2 linked regions of the Homo sapiens genome follow. The protein of the gene in region 2 interacts with the protein of the main gene of each other region in a pairwise test. Each region holds a gene or a part of one and is shown on either strand. Other genes may lie near its edges.

The links. Proteins that work in one complex are often made in the same cells at the same time.
Region 1: the proteins of TEX11 (region 2) and KIAA1217 interact in a two-hybrid assay, tested with the Homo sapiens proteins (one large-scale study listed by BioGRID and IntAct).

Annotation. Positions count from the first base shown.
Region 1 is NC_000010.11:24,474,638-24,478,137, forward strand, and holds part of KIAA1217 (sickle tail protein homolog), read left to right. Parts: intron 1-3,500. UniProt on the Homo sapiens protein: Required for normal development of intervertebral disks.
Region 2 is NC_000023.11:70,897,849-70,903,256, forward strand, and holds part of TEX11 (testis-expressed protein 11), read right to left. Parts: intron 1-5,408. UniProt on the Homo sapiens protein: Regulator of crossing-over during meiosis. Involved in initiation and/or maintenance of chromosome synapsis and formation of crossovers.

The DNA.
Region 1 (3,500 bases), on a different chromosome or scaffold from region 2:
ATCAGCAAAATTTTTCCAGGGAAAGACTCTCTGGGGACTTGAATTTCTTTTTAAATAGACATATTTTATAATTTACCAATTCAGAAGCTTCCTACTCTATCTTGAAAACCTTCCAAAGTTCATATAGTAATAGAAAAGCTAATTTTGATAAAGGGAATTTCTCTAGCCTGAATTGGTTGAAACAAGTCAACATAATAATCATAAAAATCTAGCCAAAGAAATTGAGTCCAAAGAAGGTTTAAGCATGCTGCTACCTATTGTTATATATGAATCAAGGGGTATGAAAAATAAGATGTCCAGGCCAAGTGCAGTGGCTTACGCCTGTAATCCCAGCACTTTGGGAGGCTGAGGCAGGTGGATCACCTGAGCTCAGGAGTTCTAGACAAGCCTGGCCAACATGGTGAAAATCCATCTCTATTAAAAATACAAAAATTAGTCGGGTGTGGTGGCAGGTGCCTGTAATCTCAGCTACTCGGGAGGCTGAGGCAGGAGAATCACTTGAACCTGGGAGGTGGAGGTTGCAGTGAGCCAAGATCGCACCATCACACTCCAGCCTGGGGGACAAGAGCAAGACTTCATCTCAAAAGAAAAAAGAAAAATAAGGTGTCTAGATATTCAGTTATTCAATACCTTATTAGAACCACTGCTTCTCACTAAAAAATGTTAATATCACTTACTATTATATACCATGTAAAAAGAAGGCCAAAATTGTGAATGGAATGTGACCTGTCTACCTTACTGTTTTCACACACAAGTCAGAAAGCCCTGAAGTCCTCTTTAGCACAGTTTTATTATGAAAGGGCAATCCCTTCTTACTTGTTCAGTTACAGGGAATATCATAGCAGAAAGATTCCAGGAGACAGAAAGAGAAAGAACATGAAAGTTCTGGGATCATTAATGAAACAAAAGTTCTAACTCTCTCATGTAGCTAGAATAACAACAACAGTGAATGGCTTGATGATGCAGGACTAAGAAAAAATAAGGATTGGAAAATAGTATTCATTCTCTCCTTTCCAAAGTCCTCATGAAGTGAAATTCTAAGCATCAAAGAAAGGGACTCTTCCCGTCACTGCAGACAGCTAAGGGGTATAGGATAAACACTCATAGTGGTTCATGGGAACAGACCAATGTGACATCTGGAGAGGAATCTACCAAGATGTGCGATAAGTCTTGGAAGCCTGTGTTGCATACTTCACAGAAAGGATAACACACCTGTCCCCTTTGGCAGGCTTTGAGGTGCTGGTTGGGAAATGGTATGTTGCTGAGGGGATGGAACTTACGGGAGCAAGAATTTAGACCAGAAAACAATAAAGATAATTTGTCTCCTGCATATAATGTTGAGAGCCAGAATCCTACCTCCCACACTGACCTATCCTAGATAAAAGAGCATCAGGAGCTTGATTTTGCCATGACCATATTGAACTGTTTCCACCCCGGTTCTTGGATGATAAAAACCTGAATTTGCATGAAAACAGATTAGTTTAGATGTAATATTCTTTTGGGAATAGTGCTGAAATTATCAAAATTTTTGGCCAACCAAAGATGGTGTCTGCCTTCTTTCCAGAACCTAGCTCAGTGTCATCTGTGTGATTACCACGCACACACAACTTAATGTACATCCTTGAGCCTCACTTTTCAAGACGTTTAGTTATGGAGAGAATAAAACAAACCCTCTGCTGACCTGTGGAGTCATCTCTGTATGGGATCAAAATCTTGAAAGATTTTAGCTTTTGGTACTATGGGTATTCTTTGAGAGCCTCCACTCCCTTTTTTAAAAAAGATCTGCCAACCCTAGAGACTTCCATTTTGTAAAATTTCAGAAAATTCTATGGACTTCAGTTTTACATGTTAGAAAACCTTTTTAGAAAATCCAAATTATTCTATTTCCAGATTAACAATATAAGAAAAACTGACAAAACAGATGAATATTCACCTAAAATACAGTCATTATCACCAGTGTATTCTGACATATGATTGTAATTATGAATGTAATTTTACATGTTCACATTTTTCATTCCCCATAATGTAAAATAGCACAGGAAAAATTTTATCTCATACATCTTGCCAAGGTGACTCCCCACCTGTAATCAGCTTATCTCCAGAGGGTGGAATTGGAATGCTTGGGTATATGTGGGCCGGTTAGATTCTCTTTTCCTAGAGACCTGCACATAGACACACAGACACACAGAGACACACACATACCACATGGACACACAAAGACACAGACACACACAGACACACGACACACACACAAGACAGACACACCTACACATTCTCTCTACATTTAGACTCACTATTGCTGAAAGACCTAAACACTCCCCGCTAACTCCCCTCAGTCACATGTCAAAGGTGAAGAATAATTCTCTGGTCAAAAGAACTTGAGTCTGGAACTTTTGCCCTCAGCACTCCTACATGCTTCCCCCATTGTTTCTTACATGGGACAAAGTGACAAGGGTGAAGCTCATGCCATACTTCCTCCTCCAAGGACAGCTCAGAATCTGGCCCTGAACTCTTTTAGATATCTTGGTAACTAGGCTGACATGTAGCATTCCTGGGGAATGTATAGGAAGGAGGTGAATGGCACCTATCATTTATTGAGAGCCTTTTATGAGCCAAGCACTATGTGAAGTGGTTTCTATACATTATATGATGTAATCATCATGACAACCCAGTGAGATATGTACTATCATCATCTCCTTTTTACAGATGGAGAAACTGAGGCTCAGAGAGGTTAAGTAACTTGCCCGAGGCCACAAAGCCAGTAGGTGGCATAAAATGTCCAGGACTATTAAAGAATTCTACATATTCCATGCTGTTTACCACTGTGCAGTATTCTGCCTTGCAAATGAGAACTATAAGCCCCACCTCCACACAACAGAGAAGTTAATTCAGGAGTGAATTCTAAACATTTCAACCAGAATTCTTCAAAAATTGTTTCAGGACTAGATGCTAAGTAACTGCTCCTAAAGGATATTTACAATCATAAACACAGTAGAATTTGCATAATTATGCTGCTAAATATACACATGCCATTTTAAATATAACTGCCCTAGCTAGTATATTAGCACAATTATGCAGAAATAGGGGAAGAAAGAGGACAGCATTCTTGGTAGACTTCATTTTTTTAAATGCATCTGAGTACTATGTCAAAGAAAAATGTTAAAAACAGGAACATCAGAAACAATTACCGAAGCACAAAATTATAATCCATTGTCTCATCTATACCATGATGTTATTTAGAAATGCTTAATCTGTGTAAGTATTGTTAAAGAATTTTCAACCCCTTAAAGCTTAACTTCATGAGCACAGGGTCGTATAAAGAACCAATCCAATTTCTGTTGCAATTTCATAATATTAAAAAGCAAATAAATATGAGAGTGTTTTTCATATGAGAGTCTCAAGTGACATTTTACATCGAAGATGTGAAGCTGCAAAAACACCAGTGGGAGGCTGAGAAATCGGTGGCTGTGCTTTCTGTTGGCACTGCTGGGTTCTTATGC
Region 2 (5,408 bases):
CAATGAACCAACTTTTTAAAGTTCTAAATCACCTTAAAATTCCAGTAATACACTCTAATTTTATAATTGATTAAAATAAAGCATGGAGAAGTTAACTAACTTGGCCAAGATCAAAGCTATTAGCAACTCAGCCCTGAACAGAATCCAAGGAAACTGCACCCTTTCTGCTTTGGCTGATGTCTACGTGTCTCCTTGTAAAATTTAGTTCAACAAACATTTCTTGAATGCCTGGTGTCTTGCTAGGAATATAAAGATGAGTGAAGCAGTCTATGCCATCATGAGGATTGCACTACCAAAGGTAATTACATTCTAAAAATTATAGTAGTAATCAGTCATGAGATCAAAGTAGGATGAAGGGAAAAAATTAAAAATAAATAAAAATTTAAAAATTATAATATAATGTAATAAGTGCTGTGAGTGGAAGACGCTACAGCAATGTAAAAGGATTGCATAAATGCCCATTTGAGGGATGGAATATAGGAATAGCAGGATAAGCTTCACTGAAGTGTTACTTGAGGTGGGGCTGAAGGATGAGTTAGAGATTTCCAGGCAGATACTGAGGGAAAGGAACACGCCAGAGGGCAAAGCACAGAGGTGTGAAAAAGCACAATGAATTCAAACAAGCATAAGCAGTTATGTATGGCTGGAGAAAACACCATTAGAAAGGTATACAGGGGCCAGAACTTGGAAGACACTGTATGGCATACTAAGAAAGTTCAATTCTGTGGGTCACTCAATGTCTTTATTTTATAAACTGTATTTTTTTTTTTTTTTTGAGATGGAGTCTCACTCTGTCGGCCAGGCTGGAGTGCAGTGGCGCAATCTCAGCTCACTGCAAGCTCCGCCTCCCGGGTTCACGCCATTCTCCTGCCTCAGCCTCCCGAGTAGCTGGGACTACAGGTGCCCGCCAGCACACTCAGCTAATTTTTTGTATTTTTAGTAGAGACGGGGTTTCACAGTGTTAGCCAGGATGGTCTCGATCTCCTGACCTCATGATCCACCAGCCTCGGCCTCCCAAAGTGCTGGGATTACAGGCGTGAGCCACGGCACCCGGCCATAAACTGTACTATTCCCCCTAATAGGTGCATACCAGGTGGCATCAGTGATTATCTCACTGATTATCTGTAAGATTTCTGTACAGGCTGTAAAATAAGTATGCTCATGATTCTAAACTATGTGGCCCTGTCTTGGGATATTTCCTAATAACTCTGTCATTCTTAATCTGAGGATCCCATTGTTGTATTTAAAGGAAAAGATAGTTCAGGGAAGATTACAAATAAAGTCCTTTGAGATTCAATGAAAGCCAATTATCTTGACTGAGTTTTACTACTAAACTTTTTAGTCTAGATCTGCACTCTCTAATATGGTAGCAATATATGGCTACTGAGCACTTAAAATGTGGCTAGTTCAAATTGGGATGTGCTTTAATTGTAAAATACACATGGGTTTCAAAGACTTAGTTTAAAATAAGAAAGTAAAATATCTCAGCAATTTTGTATACTGATTATATGCTGGAACAAAAATGTATGAATATGCTGGGCTATAGCATTAAAATTATTATTATATTAAAAATTAATTTCACCTATTTATTTTTACTTTTTAAACGTGATTACTAGAAAATTTTAAGTTACATTTCTAACTCACATTATATTTCTACTGGACAGGGCTGGTATTGAGTATACATTGGAACTATATTCTGAAGACTTGATGAAACAAATTAGCTAATGTCTACCTCCCTAACAATCATCATAAATATAATAGAAAAAGAAAATATAGAGGCTGGGCACCGTGGCTCACACCTGTAATCCCAGCACCTCCTGTAATCTGGAGGCCGAGGCAAGCAGATCACTTGAGCTCAGGAGTTCAAGACCAGCCTGGGCAACATGGCAAAATCCAGTCTTTACAAAACATACAAATATTAGCCAGGCGTGGTGGTGCATACCTATACGTTCATGCCACTGCACTCCAGCCTGGGTGACAAAGAGAGGTCCTGTATTAAAAAAAAAAAAAAAAAAAAAAAAAGGACCAGGTGTGGTGGCTCATGCCTGTAATCTCAGCATTTTGGGAGGCTGAGGCAGGCAGCTCACCTGAGGTCAGGAGTTTCACCATGTTGGCCAGAACAGCCTGGCCAACATGGTGAAACCCGGTCTCTACTAAAAATATTTTTTTAAAAATAGCCAGGAGTGGTGGTGCACGCCTGTAATCCCAGCTACTTGGGAGGCTGAGGCACGAGAATCACTTAAACTTGGGAGGCAGAGGTTGCAATGAGCCGAGATGGTGCAACTGCACTCCAGCCTGGGCAACAGAGTGAGGCTCTGTCTCAAAACAAACAAAAAATTAATTAATTAATTAGTTAAAATAAAAATACAAAAATTAGCCAAGTGTGATGGTGGGTGCCTGTAATCCCAGCTACTTGGGAGGCTGAGGCAGGAGAATCGCTTGAACCCGGGAGGCGGAGGTTGCAGGGTCACAGTGAACAGAGATCGTGCCACTGCGCTCCAGCCTGGGCTACAGAGGGAGACTCTATCTCAAAAAAAAAAAAAAAAAAAGAAGAAGAAGAAGAAAATTGAAAATTTTCTTGAAACAAATGATAATGGAAACACAGCATACCAAAACGTATGGGATACAGAGTGAAGTTTATCACTATGAGTGCCTACATCAAAAAAGAGGAAAAACTCCGAACAACCTAATGATGCATCTTAAACAACTAGAAAAGCAAAAGCAAACCAAACCCAAAGTTAGTTGAAGAAAAGAAATAATAAAGACCAGAATAGAAATAAACGAAATTAAAATGAAAATATATATATATAAAAGATCAGTGAAGCCCAGTAGTGGTGACTCATGCCTATAATCCCAGCAGTTTGGGAGGCTGAGGTGGGTGGATCACTTGAGGCCAGGAGTTCGAGAGCAGCCTGGCCATCACAGCAAAACCCTGTCTCTACTAAAAATACAGAAATTAGCCTGGCATGCCTGCAGTCATAGCTACTCAGGAGGCTGAAGCACAAGAATTGCTTGCGCCTGGGAGGTGGAGGTTGCAGTGAGCTGAGATTATGCCACTGCACTCCAGCCTGGGCAATGGAGTGAGACTCTGCCTCAAAAAAAGAAAGAAAGAAAAATCTAGAAAAAAGGCCAGTAGGCAGGCAGATCGCTTGAGCTCAGGAGCTCAGGAGACCAGCCTGGGAAACATGGTGAAACCCTGTCTCTACCAAAAATACAAAAATTAGTCAGGAATGGTGGCGCATGCCTATATTCCCTCAGGAAACTGAGGCGGGAGGATCGCTTGAACCTAGGAGGATAGCGCCACTGCACTACAGCCTGGCAATAGAGTGAGACCTTGTCTAAATAAATAAATAAATACTTAAAAAAGACTGAGGGATTTGGGGGGCAAAAAGTTCAAAATGAATAACTAGCGTGGTATGAAAGAAAGAAAAAGCAAATTCAGTCTTAGCTATATTATTATCTAAAGAGAAAAATCATCAGTCCTAAATCTAAAGAGAAAGATTACAGGCGTGCATCACTTAAGGACAGGGATACATTCCAGAAATGTGTAATTTGGTGATTTTTGTCATTGTCCCAACATCATAGAGCAGTGGTCCTCAACCTTCTTGGCACCAGGGACCAGTTTTGTAGAAGACAATTTTTCCACGGATGGTGGGGGGATGGTTTCGGGATGAAACTGTTCTACCTCAGATCAACAGGCATTAGTTAGATTTTCATAAGGAGCATGCAACCTAGATCCCTCGTGTGGGCAGTTCAGGCTCCTGTGAGAATCTAATGCCACTGGCCACTGATCTGACAGGAGGCGGAGCTCAGGCGGTAATGCTTGCTGGCCCAGGGCTCATCTCCTGCTGTGCAGCCAGGTTCCTAACAGGCCAGAGACAGGTAATGGTCCGTGGCCCAGGGGTTGAGGACCCCGTCATAGAGTGTACTTACACAAGATGGTATAGCCTACTACACATCTAGGCTATATGGTATAGCCTATTGCTTCTAGGCTACAAACCTATAACTCATGTTACTGTAGTGAATACTGCAGGCAACTGTAACACAATGATAAGTATTTGTGTATTTAAACATATCTAAACCTAGAAAAGGTAAGTAAAAATATAAAAGATTAAAAATGACTGGGTACGGTGGCTCACAGCTGTAATCCTAGCACTTCGGGACACCGAGGAAGGAGGATCGCTTGAGCCCAGGAGTTCGAAACCAACCTGGGCAACATAGGGAGATCCCGTCTCCACAGAAAAATTAAAAATTATCTGGGCATGGTGGTGCATGCCTGTGATTCCCGGCTACTCAAGATGTTGAGGTGGGAGGATTACTTGGGCCCAGGAGGTAGAAGCTGTGGTGAGCCACGATCACACCACTGCACACCAGCCTGGGTGAGAGAGTGAGACCCTACCTCAAATAACATAATAATAAATTTTTATAAGATAAAAAAAGGTACACCTGTATAGGGCACTTACCATGAGTGGAGCTTGCAGACCTGGAAGTTGCTCTGGGTGAGTCAGTGAGTGAGTGGTGAATATATGTGAAGGTCTAGGACATTACTGTACACTACTGTAGACTTTATAAACTCTGCACACTTAGGCTACACTCAGTTTATAAAAGAATATGTTTCTTTCTCCAATAATAAATTTACCTTAGCTTACTGTAACTTTTTTACTTTATAAGCTTTGTTTGTTTGTTTGTTTGAGATGGGGTCTCACTCTGTCACTGGGGCTGCAATGCAGTGGTGCGATCTCGGCTCACTGCAACCTCTGCCTCCCAGGCTCAAGCAATCCTCCCACCTCAACCTATGGAGTAGCTGGGACCACAGAGTAGCTGGAACCACAGGCACGTGCCACCATGCCATGATAATTTTTTGTATTTTTGGTAGAGACAGGGTTTCACCATGATACCCAGGCCAGTCTCGAACTCCTGAGCTCAAGTGATCTGCCCGCCTCAACCTCCCAAAGTACAAACTTTTTAATTATTTTTAACTTTTTAACGCTTTTGTAGTAACACTTAGCTTAAAGCACAAACATTATACAGCTGTACAAAAATATTTTCTTTCTTTATATCCCTATTCTATAAGCTTTTTTCTGTTAACATTATTAATTTTACTTTTTAAACTTTTTGTTAAAAACTAAGACACAAACACATACATTATTAGCCTAGGCCTACACAGGCTCAGGATCATCACTATCACTGTCTTCCACCTCCACGTTTTGTCCCACTGGAAGTTCTTCAGGGGCAATAAAATGCATGGACCTGTCACCTACTGCGATAATAGTGCCTTCTGGAATACCTCCTGAAGGAACTGCCTGAGGCCATTTTACAGTTAACTTTATTTTTTATAAATAGAAGGAGTACACTCTAAGATGATGATAAAAAAATAGTATAAGATAGCATAGTATGGTATAGTGAAT